Linked DNA regions of Homo sapiens. The protein of the gene in region 2 interacts with the protein of the main gene of each other region in a pairwise test. Each region holds a gene or a part of one and is shown on either strand. Other genes may lie near its edges.

Region 1 (7,536 bases), on a different chromosome or scaffold from region 2:
GCAAAAGAAGAATATATATTTTTATGGATAATAAGTAAATGGTAAATGTATACAAACATGAATGTGAATAAAAAGCCATCAAACTAAGGTGACTGGCTGTAAGTGGAGGAGGGAGGGAGGGCAGGGATTGCTGAGTGCTGCACAGACAGCTTCAGCTGTGACTTGTTGATAGTGTGTTTTGTTTGTTTTTGTTTTTGAGATGGAGTTTCACTCTTCTCGGCCAGGGTGGAGTGCAATAAGGCAATCTCAGCTCACTCCAACTTTCACCTCCTGGGTTCAAGTGATTCTTCTGCCTCAGCCTCCCGAGTAGCTGGGGTTACACGCACGTGCCCCCACACTCAGCTCATTTTTTAATTTATGGTAGAGACGGGGTTTCACCATGTTGGCCAGGCTGGTCTCAAACTTCCTGACCTCAGGTGATCCACCCGCCTCAGCCTTCCAAACTGCTGGGATTACAAGTGTGAGCTACCACGCCCGGCCTGTTTGCAGTTTTTCTAATATTCTGAATAAATAAATCAGACCTAACTTAGCTGTGGGGTAATGTTGAGATCCGACTGGACTCAATATTATTCCCCATACTTTTCTGTGTGTTTGAAATATTTCTTTTTTAAATGACATGTTGTTCTTCCTAAGCACTGTTAATGTATCAAAGGACAGTTAAGAAAATGTTACAAGTGAAAAAAAAAAAAAAGAAAGAAAGTGTTAAAACTGTAGATCCGCCAAAAACTTCCAGAGGTTGTTTCATTAACAGCATGTAGGTATTGGATAGGTATCTTAGGAGTGAGGTTGATGAACACATTATGTAATAAAGATCGCTGTTTCTCTGTATTTTATCAAAACCAAATAGTCTTCTCATTCCCAAATAACCCTGATTCTCTGTGATGAGCTTGAAAGAGAGTTTGAAAGAGTGATCCCTTATCGAAAACACAGAGAGCTTTCCCACTTGTCAGAGAACAGAGATAACATAGGATGAAAAAAAGACAGGTTCTTGGGTAGAGAGCTTTGTGCATTTCAGGAAAATAAAGGGGACATATGTATTTACTTGCTCTTCTACTCTGACAACATAATTATAAGACAAGGTCAGAATGTCCAAACCGTCTCCAATAGACCTATTACTCGCCAACTAAACAGGCCAGATTCTACAATCTCCCGCAATCACTATAAGAGATCTGAAAAGCCAGTGCTTGAGTATCTGCCAAGTTTTTAACGTTAAAGGACTGTCTTTGTACTGAAAATCTTTCAGAGCCACTGGACCAAATCATCCGTGGTTCACCACACATTTAACAGCTTAATTCACATACCATAAGATTCACCCATTTGAAGTGTACAATGATTTTCAGTTGTTGCACATCTTGAGTGGATACAGTTCAGATTCCTAACCAATCAATTTAATTATTTGGGAAAAAGTAAAAGATATGTAATCGAATAAGATGAGACTGTGATGGGGTGTAGTCCCCATGTGATAAACCATGAGATGGAAAATTCTGAATTGATGCCACAGATAAATGCATCAACCATGACTAAACATAATTCAGAAGCAAATCTGAAATAACTCCTCAACAATGCGTGGACTCATAAGCCTCTGCTGCAGAATACCCTGATGCGACAGAAGTCTCTCTAGAGTTTGGAAACCTTTACCAACAATGAAAAATTCTGATGTATTCTCTTTCAGTTCAACGTCCTCAGATGACTTTCGGCAGGCTCCAGGGAATCTTCCCGAAGGTGAGTATCTTTCAGATCTAAAGGACCAGAGAACCTTTGTCCCTCCAAGGATGCGAACACTGGTAAGAGTGGGAGAATATCAACAATGCCCTCACTGCCTTCTTCTCCCCATGTCTATCACAACACCTGATGTAGCACCGACGGCTTGATAGTACCAACATTTGTGATTGTTCATACCTCTTTTGTTTTCATAGTGATGCCAGATACTATTTCAAGCAGTTCACATGGATTAATTTATTTAATCCTTAAGAAGACATTGTTTCTATTATCTCCGAATAATAATGAGTAACACATTTCAGTTTTCATCCATATGATAGCCATATGACTTGGCACAAATCTTCTGAGTTCTCTGAGCTCCAGATTCCTGGTCCATGAAATGGAAGTAAAGAATTATAGTTTATGTTTTAGATCATAGTTATCAGCAACATAATAATAAAATGAGGCTATCGTGGTACAGAGATGTTAAAGAATTTTCCTGAGGCGCAGTGTCAGTGGTAGTCTAATCCAGAGCTCCAAGCCATTTAAAGCTCATTCACGTTTGCATTTGTTTATGAAGTTCAGATGTTGCTCACTAGGGCTTCACCCCATAGGGCCTGCTGGTGCTTCCATTGAGACACCCACTCTCGCAACAGGAAGGACCATCTGGTCTCTGCTGTGTTACTGGGGCCACTTGCATGGCTTAGGAATCGCTTTGATTGTTGGCCCCTCCCTACTGTGAGCTCCTTGAGTGCCTTGTCTGCACCTGGGGCGTCTGGGAAGCCCCAGTCCCAGCCCAGGGGATCCCTCGGAGGCCCCTGAATGAGTGATCCCACAAGTGCAGATTCAACTCTGGTTTGGAGGGTAAAGGGATCTGGGAGTTGGGTTGCCAGTGTGGAGACTGAATTCAAAGAAGGATTGTGAAAGGTATTAATTGTTATTATTACTACATTTAAAGAGTGTTTACAAGCTCAGAGAGCACTTTCTTGTAGCCTATTTTACATGTATGGTTCACTATTTCATAAGGGAGGAAGCTGAATTAAAAGTAGCTTAAGATCAGGGCGCGGTGGCTCACGACTGTAATCCCAGCACTTTGGGAGGCTGAGTCGGGCAGATCACAAGGTCAGGAGATCGAGACCATCCTGCCCAACATGGTGAAACCTCGTCTCTACTAAAAATACAAAACTTAGTGGGGCGTGGTAGTGCCTGCCTGTAGTCCCAGATACTCTGGAGGCTAAGGAAGGAGAATCGCTTAAACGCGGGAGTCAGATATTGCCTTGAGCCGATATCATGCCACGGCTCCCCATTCTGGCGACACAGCAAGACTCCGTCTCAAAAAAAAAAAAAAAAAAGAAAAAGAAAGCAGCTTAAGATTGTTGGTCAGTACACATCCCAATGCAACCAGAATTGGTATGGGTACCACCTCACTGAATTCCACATTCAATTGGTGCCTCGGTAGGGTAGTATGTCATATCTGGTACTGCTTTGTTTGCTGCCTAGATTAATTTCAGCAAGCCATTTATTTCCCTCTCCCTTCCTTGTGTTCATCTCCCCACACCATCTTTCCCAGCAGTGTTTTGTCGCCTCCCTATGTTTTTACATTTACTCTCCCAGCAGCTGTCTACAAGCTTATATGGGATCCCTTGTATTTTACAGAACCTCTTCCCTTTGTAGACCTTGTGAATTCTTAGAATGCTACTCTTCTCCAAATCATCTGTATATCACACTCTCAATTAAATGGAGATTTTTGCTGTTTGCAAGAATGTGAGTCCTAAAAGAGTGGGAAGATAAGCATTCTATCCCTGGAAACCATATTCACTTAGGCCATTCCTTTCCCTTCTAACCTCCCCTCCCAGGTTTCTCCTAATTTAGGCCTGTGTAACTCTCCCAGTGTTGTTGAGAACATTGAATAAGCTAATGCATGTGAAGACCCTTTGTAAGCTCAAAAGCACTATAGAAATGTCACTGATACTATTTATCTATGACCTTCACATTATAAAGATCATGCCCAAGAAGCCAGCAGAGGAAGGAAATGTTTCGAAGGAAGTGCCAGAAGCATCTGGCCCACAAAACGATGGGAAACAGCTGTGCCCCCCGGGAAAACCAACTACCTCTGAGAAGATTAACATGATATCTGGTAAGAGGAAGCAATTCAGGAACAATCCCACTGGCTTCCCTGGCGACGTTCAGGTGTGTGGACTGGGTGTGTGGCATGGATCCCAGATAACCCTGGGTCCAGGCTGGGCTGAGGAGCTTGCCCAGCTCCAGATGAGATGTTAGACATGACTTCCAGAGACAGACTGGAGTTGTCATCCATATAAAAAAAAACCACGTGACTTGAGGAAAGTCTTCCAAATTTCCTCAGCTCCAGGTTCCTAGTCCATAAGATGGAAATAAAGAATCATAGTTCATAAATTGTTTGGAGACATTAAATTTAATCTAGAAGGCCTGATGACATGAAAGGTGCTCAAGCGATTCTATCTGTGATAACCTGGGATCATATCTTACTCAGCTCAATGCCTGTTACCCAATACAGGTGTCCTTCAGAGATACTGCAGGTTCGGTTCCAGACCACTGCAATAAAGTGAGTCACACACATTGTTTTTTGTTTGACAGTGCATAAAACGTTATGTTTACACTACAGTGTAGTCTACTAAGTGTGCAATAGCATTATGTCTAAAAATGTATATACCTTAATTTTAAAATAATTCATTGTTAAAAATGCTAACAATCTTCTGAGCCTTCAGTGAGTCACACTCTTTTTGCTGGTGGAGGGTCTTGCCTCGGTGTTGATGGCTGCTGGCTGGTCAAGGTGGTGGTTGCTGAAGATTGGAGTGGCTGTGGCAGTTTCTTAAAAGAACACAACAATGAAATTTGCCACATCGATTAGCTCTCCCTTTCATGAAGGATTTCTCTGTAGTATGTGATGCTATTGGATAGCATTTTACCCACAGTAGAACTCCTTTCAAAGTTGAACTCAATCCTCTCTAGCTATGAAAGTCCTAGATGGCATCTCCTTCCAATAGAAGGCTATTTTATCTACATTGAAAATCTGTTGTTTCGTGTAGCCACCTTCATCAGTGATCTTAGCTAGATCTTCCGGATAACTTGCTGCAGCTTCTCCATCAGGGTTTGCTGCTTCACCTTGCACTTTTATGTTATAGAGACGGCTTCTTTCCTTAAACCTCACGAACCAACCTCTGCTAGCTTCACAGGTTTCTCCTGCAGCTTCTTCACCTCTCTCAGCTTTCATGGATTTGAAGAGAGTTCTGGTCTTGCTCTGAATTAGACTTTGGCTTAAGGGAATGTTGTGGCTGGTTTCATCTTCTATCCTGACCACTCAAACTTTCTCTATTTGAGCAGTAAGGCAGTTTTGCTTTCTTATTCGTGTGTTCACTGGAGTATTAGTATTATTATTTCCTTCAAGAACTTTTCCTTTGCATTATATACTATTATTTCCTTCAAGAACTTTTCTTTGCATTCACAGCTTGGCTGTTTGGTGCAAGAGGCCTAGCTTTCAGCCTGTCTTGGCTTTCAGCATGCTTCCTCACTAATCTTAGCCATTTCTAGCTTGTGATTTAGAGTGAAAGGCATGCGACTCTTCCTTTCATTTGAACACTTAACGGCCATTGTAAGGTTGTTAATAATCCTCATTTCAGTATTGCTGTGTCTCAGGAAATAGGGAGGCCCAAGAAAAGGAAGAGAGACGCGGAACAGCTCATCGGTGGAGCAGTCAGAAGACACAAAACATTAATCGATTAAGTTTGTCATATTCTATGGGTGCAGTTCCTGGTACCCCCAAAACAATTACACACAACAGGGTGATTATAGTCAATAATAACTTAATTGTACTTAAAAAAACTAAAAGAGCATAAATGGATTGTTTGTAAGGCAAGGATAAATGCTTGAGGATGGATACCCTATTTTCCATGATGTGATTATCATGCATTGCATGCCTGTATCAAAGCATCTCATGTACCCCATAAGAATATACACCTACTGTGTACCCACAAAATAAAGAACAAAAATTATTTTAAAACACTAAAAAACAACAAAAACAATTTTAGTAATAATAGTAAAGCTCACTGATCACAGATCACTATAACAGATATAATAATAATGGAAAAGTGTAAAATTGGTGAGAATTTCCAAAAAAAAAAATTGCAGCATCTGCGAAGCAGTATGAACATGAAGTGCAACAAAACAAGGTATGCCTGTGTGGCTTTAACAAATACGTGCTGTATGAAATTAGGTATGGGGGAATGTTCCCGTAAGTGAAGAGGTTGGGAATCTAAGCCTGAGAAGGGAAGGAGCCAGAAGCTAAAACTTTAATTGGCATTTGGCCTATATTGGTGTGGGTCTAAGGTCTCAGCCTCTCTAAGCCAGAGAATGTGAAAAACTGGATAAAGAAGGCCCATGGGCACTTGGGAGGAAGCAGGCATCTCCTTTTTTTGAGTAAACAGAGCCTAACACTCTCCAACCTACCCAACCCTCACTTTCCAACTATTCTCCATCATAGGACCCAAAAGGGGGGAACATGCCTGGACCCACAGACTGCGTGAGAGAAAGCAGCTGGTGATTTATGAAGAGATCAGCGATCCTGAGGAAGATGATGAGTAACTCCGTAAGAGAACCTTCCACTCATCCCCTGCATCCCTGCAGATGTGCTATTCTGTTATGATACTGGCATCCCATCTGTCACTTGCTCCCCAAATCATTCCCTTCTTATAATTTTCTAGTGTACAGCATTGAGGCTGAATGATGAGATTTCCCATGCTCTTTCTACTCCCTGCCCTGTATATATCCAGGGATGCTCCCTACCCAGGATGCTGTGGGGTCCCAAACCCCAGGTCAGCCCTGATATGCGGGCCACACCTTCCTCTAGCCTAGGAATTGATAGCCCAGGCGAGGAAGTCACTGTGGCATGAACAGATGGTTCACTTCGAGGAACCGTGGAAGGTGTGTGCAGGTCCTGAGATAGGGCAGAATCGGAGTGTGCAGGGTCTGCAGGTCAGGAGGAGTTGAGATTGAGTTGTCACGTGGTGGGAACTCACTGCCACTTACTTTCCTTCTCTCTTCTTGCCTCAGCCTTGGGGATATGACACATGCCCATGATGAGAAGCAGAACGTGGTGACCTTTCACGAACATGGGCATGGCTGTGGACCCCTCGTCATCAGGTGCATAGCAAGTGAAAGCAAGTGTTCACAACAGTGAAAAGTTGAGCGTCATTTTTCTTAGTGTGCCAAGAGTACGATATTAGCGTTTCCATTGTATTTTCTTGAAGTGTGTCATTCTGTTAGATATTAACATTTTCACTGATGAGCAAGACATACTTAATGCATATTTTGGTTTGTGTATCCATGCACCTACCTTAGAAAACAAGTATTGTCAGTTACCTCTGCATGGAACAGCATTACCCTCCTCTCTCCCTAGATGTGACTACTGAGGGCAGTTCTGAGTGTTTAATTTCAGATTTTTTCCTCTGCATTTACACACACACACAAACCACACCACACACACACACACACACACACAGACACACACCAAGTACCAGTATAAGCATCTCCCATCTGCTTTTCCCATTGCCATGCGTCCTGGTCAGGCTTCCCTCACTCTGTTTCCTGGTCAGCATGTACTCCCCTCATCCGATTCCCCTGTAGCAGTCACTGACAGTAAATAAACCTTTGCAAACGTTCCCCAGTTGTTTGCTCGTGCCATTATTGTGCACACAGCTCTGTGCACGTGTGTGCATATTTCTTTAGGAAAGATTCTTAGAAGTGGAATTGCTGTGTCAAAGGAGTCATTTATTCAACAAAACACTGAGTGCGTCCTCGTGC
Region 2 (7,536 bases):
TGACCCAGGTCAGAGGTTTGGAAATTTTCAATCTTACTTTCTAAGTGACTAACCTAGTAAAACGCATACCGCAGGCAGAGTTAGAAGTCACTCTCTTCAAGCCAGTCAAGAATATTAACTACAAATTCTTCACTTACAAAATTGTATGCATTTATCTTATTAAATCTTGCTTGCAGGCACTAAAACTAAGCATGATACACTCAACTAGAAATGAATTAAATACAATCATGTTTTTACAGGTATCCTGCATGAGAACCTCTCACAACACCTGATCGAGATACTGAACTCTTCCTACTTCTATGCACAGTAATGTCAATACTAACTAGCGCCAGACGTCCATGGAGTCCTTAGGATCCTAAGTACTTAATAATATCTCTCACTTCAGCCTCATAATAACCCTCTTAAGCAGATAGCGTTGGTCTCAGCTTACAGATGAGGAAACAGTCTTAGAAGACAAGCACATAGCTAATAACAAAGTCAAAAACTTCCAATCCAGCTCTGTGGACATCACCACTCGTGTACCTGACCGTCACGTAAATGACCTCCAACTGTGTATCTTTCCTTGGGTGAAATGGGTTTATGCCTGTAGGTGCTTCTACCTTCTCCTCAAACATTCATCCTCAAATGCTCTCATTAAGATACCTAAATATGTAGCTCCATAAATAATTGTAGGTGGCTCCTTTCTACACATTTTTCACAGCCAGGATGTCCCCATTGGCCGGCACCAGCTTCTTGCAGGAACTCGCGTTCTGTGTTCCTTCATGCCGTCAGCTTCCTAGCCTCACTTCTCATTGGGGAAGTTGTTTTTTTTCTGTCTGAAAAGAAGTCGTTTCAAAGCCTCCCATCTCGTTTCATACTTATTTTTGGAACAATGGCTGAGTTCACCATTTATATTGCCTTTTGCTAGTTTCTCCTAGCAACTGCTCTCAGATACAGACGGAATCATGTTTAGCTTACAAAATCCAATTTAGAAGAAAACCTAGCAAGATTTTAACTTGTTTTATCACAATTCATGTAATTATAGAGATGCTTTAAGTTTCTCTACTCTCTGACTTTTCTGTCAAGTAGTTTATAATCTCAGCTAGCATTTATGGAGTGTTTATAATGTGCTAGGCTTGGTGCCAGGCGCCTTACAGCCTTTGTCTTAATTAATCCTCACAGCAACCCCCTGAGGTGTGTATATTATTATCTCCACTTTCCTACAGGAAACTGAGGCTCAGAGAGGTTAAGATCGCCCAGCTAGCAAGTGGCAGAGTGAGGATAGAAAACTGTGCTTTAACCACCTGCTCTTCTGCCTCCCTCCTATAATCTGAAAAGAAACCTTTAGGTTTGGGGCTTCTTTTTTATATACTGGAGTCCCTTATTTTCATGTGCAAAGTTCCCCCCCAACTTAAAGGCTTTGCAAGTTCAGATTTTTCATATCTGATTCTTTCTGTTCAATACTTTTCCATTTCCAAAGCATTTTCCACCTAACATCTCTTTTTGGTCTCAAAGGGTGTTTTATTTTCAAAGGACATTTTTATATCATACACATTTACAATTCTTTATACTCCAAAGTCAACCACATTTACATATTTTGCACTAATTTATTATAAATATTCATTATTCTTTGACTTCTTTTATTCTCCCTCTTCTTTCTATTACTGTAGTTTTTAATCCTCAGCCTACTTTTCCCATTCTTTTACACATTTGTAACTGCCCCTATTGCTGCTAGAATTATTAAACAACAATTGATTAAGCACCTAATATGTGCCAGGTGCTATGCTGGATGCTACACTGTTTAGCTCTAAGATTGTAATTCTTTGTGCATTCTCTTTCCCAGTTCTATCTAATACAGTCTAAACATGATCTTCTAAGTTCAGACTTCCTAAGGTATTTTTTGATACAGGAATTTGCCATTTTTTCTTTTTTAATCTCTGGGTTCTCTTTGCCCTCTCCGGCCATCTTCTTCACACTGTGCCTTTTGTCGTTGTCACTCTTTAACTTGGCACCTGCTAAGTTTCCTGCTGGGTTTTTAACATGCACAGGTGGGATTTAAAGCAGCAAAATTGCTGCAAACACCCTGTCATCAATGTTCAGTCACGTTAATCAACTGGAGTCTTTAATGCCCTCTTCCTGACTGGAAGAGTCACTGCCACCTGCCTTGTGCTGGCCATTTTCCCTTTCTCCCTTGGTCATTGAAAGTCACTTCACCACTGGTGTCTGGGTTACAAAGGCCAGAAGAGGAGGGAGACAGGCAAACAAAAGCATGCCACCTGGATAAACACAGTAACACACATCTGGGCAATGTACCAGGTAGCACAGAAGAGAGAGAGACTAATACATTCACGGAAGGAGGTTTCAGAGATTTCTTTAACCAGGTAACATCTTATCCAGGTTTGAAGGATGAGGAAAAGTTTTTCAGGTGGGCAAAGGGGTCTGGGGAGGGCATAAAATTCTAGACAGGGAGACCAGGACATGCAAAGGCATCCTTTAAAGCATAGGGAGCAGATTGGCAACTGACGGGCCAAAGTTCACCCACAAATGTTTTCATTAGTCCAAACACATATTTTTATTGCAATTTAGTGGCCAACATTTAATAGTTTGGAAACACATTTCTAGCCTCTAAAAGAAATTCAGAAGGTCGAGCAACTCTAGCCCAGCATTTCCTCATCAACAGAAACTGTTAAACAGTCTCTTAGATTAAGCATGTATTCTTCAGTCTGCCACAATCCCCACCACTCCATATTATCCTATACTCAAGTAACACACTTTACATTATCCAGCCTTGAATTGGCATCTCTGCATTATAGTCTTCAAAGATCAGCAGCAAATCTGTCTGGCCTAGAAATGTTTTTCCTCTTTCACCAATTTGATCATAATGCTGACTTGTTGAGATGGCGGCTTTTCTCTTACAACCTGTTTGGTTCTTTTTCTTTTTCTTGGCTCTCTATTTGCCTTCTCTGTGTGCCTTTGCTAATTCTCAAATGAGGAATACAGAACTACTCTGCTACTAGCCATTTCTTTAGATACGAGCTTACTCTGTTTATTCCACTAACATCTTCTCTTCTTTTCTCTCCATTTACAGGACATGCCTTCCTTCTTCTTCCCTTCTCTCATCACCTTTACTATATCCGTAACAGCTTTGCCCATTTATTCATTAATTTTGCTCTTTCAGCCACAATTTCATGACATTTGCTAGAGACAGCCCAAAAGAGTAGTTAAGACTTTGGCTCAGGAGGCAGACAAATTCGAATCTCTGCCATTTTCTTAGTTGTGTGGCCATAAGGGAGGTTACTTAGCCTCTCTGGGTATCAGTTTCCTGAGCTGTGAAATGAGGATGGTGACAGATTTTTCCTTGTAAAGTTCTTGTGACAATGAAATTAGCTCATGTACCACAAGGTCCAGCTCAGCAAACTATAGTTGCTGTTAAATCCATGAGCCCTCTCAGACATGTCTACAGCTGGGAAGATCTCTTTGCCTTTATCCCTTCCAGTTACTTTCTATCTTATTCTATAACTTGTCCTGCCCCAACTAGAACAACATGGAAGAAGTACTAGGTTTTCTTTTACTTGATTAGTCATTACGGTTTTTTTTTTTTTTTCTTATCACTCTTGTATCTTCTGTACATCGCTGATAAATGTCCCTGCTTTTGAGATAATAAGTTTTAGCTATTATAAAACAATAAGAAAAGTGTTTTTTCAGTTTACACCCTCAATCTCTACTTTTTTCTTGAAAATAAGTCATTTGGGTAGAACACATTCCAGTTTGCTTGCATGTGTATCTAAACAAGGAGGCTTGAATCCTGAACCCTCCCAGATGGCTTCTAAATACTTGACTGTGTAGGTCATTTTGCTCCAAGGAGCAGATGAAGTTGCTGCTGTAATAAGGGCCACATTTCCTTGAGACAATTTTTCATTTCACATCTTTGAGGACACAGATCATTTTTTTTAGCAATCTGGCTGTGCTTTTTCCTTGAACCGGGATGAATTCTTCTCCGACCCTCATAGCACTTGACACATGGTAACAATACCTACCTCATAACTGGATTGTTTCTCACACGTGTTTCCCAAATGACACCAATAATCTGATGACTACTTTTTCTATCAGTACAACATAATGTCATATTAACTCAGTTACACAATAATGCCTTTATCTGCTATTTCATTATCTTCAGAAATGTCTGAATTGGAAGAGACAAGCTTGGGCTCCTCCCGCTCCATCGAAAGGCAAAGCCTGACATGCTGTCAGCTGCACACTGGGGGCAGGAGGATGGGGAGTGCCCTGCCCCTCCTGCAGGACTCCAGGTGTGAGTGAGCTCAGCCCAGCTGTCCTGGAATTCCAGGCAGAATCAATCCTAGGCTTGGGATCCTTAGTGGAGAGGTATTCCAGATAGAAAGGTGCTACAGCAGTTTCTAGGTATTTTCCAGACAAGTGCCACCACGTTACAGTCAAGTCATTCAGAATCATTCAGTTGGCAACGCTGTTGCCATTAGATTAATGTGCTTTTCACATGTGTTTGAATCAAGCATTGAACACAGTCCCAAAATGCAATAGAAGGCATTTCATTATGTTATTAGGAAAATTTTCTCTGCGCTTTATTCCTCTCTTGTATCTAACTGTTTTTAATTATTTAAAAAAGTTATTTTCTAATCTGAAAACCAAACCATGGTCAAAATGAAAGCCATAAAATAGATTTTCAACATCCAACATCGTTTTCTTTTGGTATTTTCCCTTGGCTCATTCAGTAACCATTCTTGTCAGGAAAAAAATGAAAAATGCATAATCTCTGTCGGAGAGTTTAGGAAATAGTGTCTGGGCCCAACCAAAACCACTTTATTTGATGGTTAGTTTTCATATTTGTGGCCTTTGAAATAAGTGGACAATCTCATTTCATTAACTGTCAACTTGACCAGCTTCTTGCAGAGCTGAGTGATAGGGGTCACAGTTACTGCCACAGAGCAAGGAAATGAACATGTATCAAGAGACCCAGATTCTGGGTCTATTTCTTTCACTTTCTAGGTGAGTGCCCATAAGCAATTCATTTTACCTCTCTGGGGTTATTCCCGCTCTGTTCTAAGCTAAACCACAAGTTCACTTAGTCCACACATTGCAAACTGGCTGGCTGCTGCCAAATATATCCCACATCAGTGTCTTGCTTGGCCCATGGTAAATAGTTCATAAACTGGTAAATATTAAATAAAAAATCCAAATGTCCAACTCCTCTTGAAAAATACAAAAATGGGCAATAGTAAACCAACATTACCACTTGGAAGCTGATAAGACTGCACACCCTAGAGGGGGCATGTGCTTTACAGCCCACCATAGTCCCCTCCTCTCCCTATTGTCTTGCGCCAGCCCCACTTTATCATTTACATAAGCTATTGGGCATAATAGGCCTATGATTTTGCTACCTTGTTTTAGCCATTTGTCTGCTGTAGTTTCCAGGAACTCGCCATTTAGCCAACCTCTTCTGAATCTGCTTTAATTTTTCAAAGTGATTCTTAAAATGCGAATCAAAAACTAAAGTCATTTCTCCAGATGTCCTTAATAGTAAAAGGCCAACATCACATCATTGACTCTTCCTGAGCTTATGAACAAATAAAACCGCAGGTCTCCTTCACAAGAAGCTGACTGCTAAATATGGTCTGCCCTGGTCTGTGATTTTTAAATGAGAATCTATAGTTCTGGCCTGAATTTCTATATTTCTCATGAGAGGTTTGTGATTATCAAACACACCATAGTATGAAATCATCAGAATATTTAAAATGAAGCCCTATGCAAGTATGAAATACCTTATCATTTAAATATATAGACTGTACACTGACAGGATGTCTCTGGCATTAAATGTCTTTTATGATTATCGTTACATGTTTTATTGTTATTGTTACATGTTTTAGTGGGTTTTTTTTTTAACTTTTTAAAAAATATGCCTTTTAAAGTGTGTTAAGGCTGGCTGCAGTGGCTCATGCCTGTAATCCCAGCATTTTTGGAGGCTGAGGCGGGCGCATCACATGAGGTCAGGAGTTCAAGACCAGACTGGCCAACATGGGAAAACCCCGTCTCTACTAAAAATACAAAAACTAACCCGGCTTGGTGGCACACGCCTGTAATCCCAGCTACTTGAGACGCTGAGGCAGGAGAATCACTTGAGCCCAGGAGGCAGAGGTTGCAGAGTTAAGATGGTGCCACTGCACTCCAGCCTGGGCAACAAGAGCGAAATCCATCTCAAAAATAAATAAATAAAGTATGTTAAAACTAAATAATAATGCCAATTGGATATTACCTTGTTGAGGGATACCTTAAAAGAGGTACATTTTAATCAAGAATGACCTATAAAACCATATCATTCACTCTCTTTCTATCTGCTTTATCAACCAAGCTGACACTTTGCCTTTTATCATACCAAAGAAGATACATTTCACTTGTACATGATTTACACATTCTGCCTACAAATGAGAGGATATGAAAAACAAGATCATGCACCCCTGTTCTTCACAAAACATATTTAAATTATATCATTGGTTTTGAATTGTCTCCTAATTTTTTAGATCTTTGCATTTTTTATGTTCTTAGGAATAAATGGCTATGGGTCAATTTTAGGATTTACTGCTTTCCAGAAGTAATCCACAACCATTTATTGCAAATAAAGGAAAGTAAAAAATACAAAAATACAAAAAAAAAAAAATAGGATAGCAGATACAAATTGAAATGGAAAAAAAAAAAAAAAGACAAACATAATCCAAACCACCCCACAGGCTGTTTGTAGGACAGGCAGAAGTAAGTGCTTGTCTGGGCAGTGAGTTGATACCACTGTGCTTTTCTCTCTTTTTTATCTCTCATGCCTTTCTCTCTTTTGTGTTTAAGATCGGAGCACAGTGCTACTTGGAATGTTCAGCTCTGACTCAGAAAGGTCTCAAAGCGGTTTTTGATGAAGCAATCCTCACCATTTTCCACCCCAAGAAAAAGAAGAAACGCTGTTCTGAGGGTCACAGCTGCTGTTCAATTATCTGAGGTTGTCTGGGACCTGCCTCCACCCCATCCAGGGATGAGAATGGCAGCCAATCTCTGTGGCCAAGCTCCAGCCAAAAAGGAGGGCACGACCAGAAAGGAACTCCCTTTGCACGGAGGCTTGCCCCATCACCCTCTGAGCCCTCCCAACACAGCACACTAGTCAGCCCACTGCCACGACCTCCCTGCCAGCCAGAAGCATCCGTACTGCACGCTGTCTGAGAATGCTGGGCCTGGATTGCAGACAGTGCCGCTGCTGATCGCATCAAAAACAAAGTCAAAGGCCATCTCACATTTTACAAATCCCCAGCTCATGAACGTGAAGCTGATAGGAAATCACCCCAGGGAACCCGAAAAAGAAACTTGATTCCTCTATTGCTGGCCTTACTTGATGTCTTTTATAAAACTTGGGACTACAATACTAACCTTTTTTTCTGAATCTGCTGTTCTACCCATGTGTCTCACATTCATTTGTATTATTTCAAGAAATGTACTAATTTCCAGTTCACTCAGGCCTTACTAATCCATACCAAATTAGCCTAAAGA

The links. The genes of interacting proteins can lie anywhere in the genome.
Region 1: the proteins of RHOJ (region 2) and SSX3 interact in binary tests that used the Homo sapiens proteins (3 or more experiments, as listed by UniProt).

What each region holds. Positions count from the first base shown.
Region 1 is NC_000023.11:48,346,286-48,353,821, reverse strand, and holds the end of SSX3 (protein SSX3), read left to right. Parts: intron 1-1,672; coding exon 1,673-1,722; intron 1,723-3,699; coding exon 3,700-3,835; intron 3,836-4,234; coding exon of another isoform or gene 4,235-4,281; exon of another isoform or gene 4,282-4,425; intron 4,426-5,373; exon of another isoform or gene 5,374-6,217; coding exon 6,218-6,318; 3' UTR 6,319-6,322; intron 6,323-6,786; 3' UTR 6,787-7,395; downstream 7,396-7,536. UniProt on the Homo sapiens protein: Could act as a modulator of transcription.
Region 2 is NC_000014.9:63,284,032-63,291,567, forward strand, and holds part of RHOJ (rho-related GTP-binding protein RhoJ), read left to right. Parts: intron 1-4,156; coding exon of another isoform or gene 4,157-4,219; exon of another isoform or gene 4,220-4,286; intron 4,287-6,846; coding exon 6,847-6,993; 3' UTR 6,994-7,536.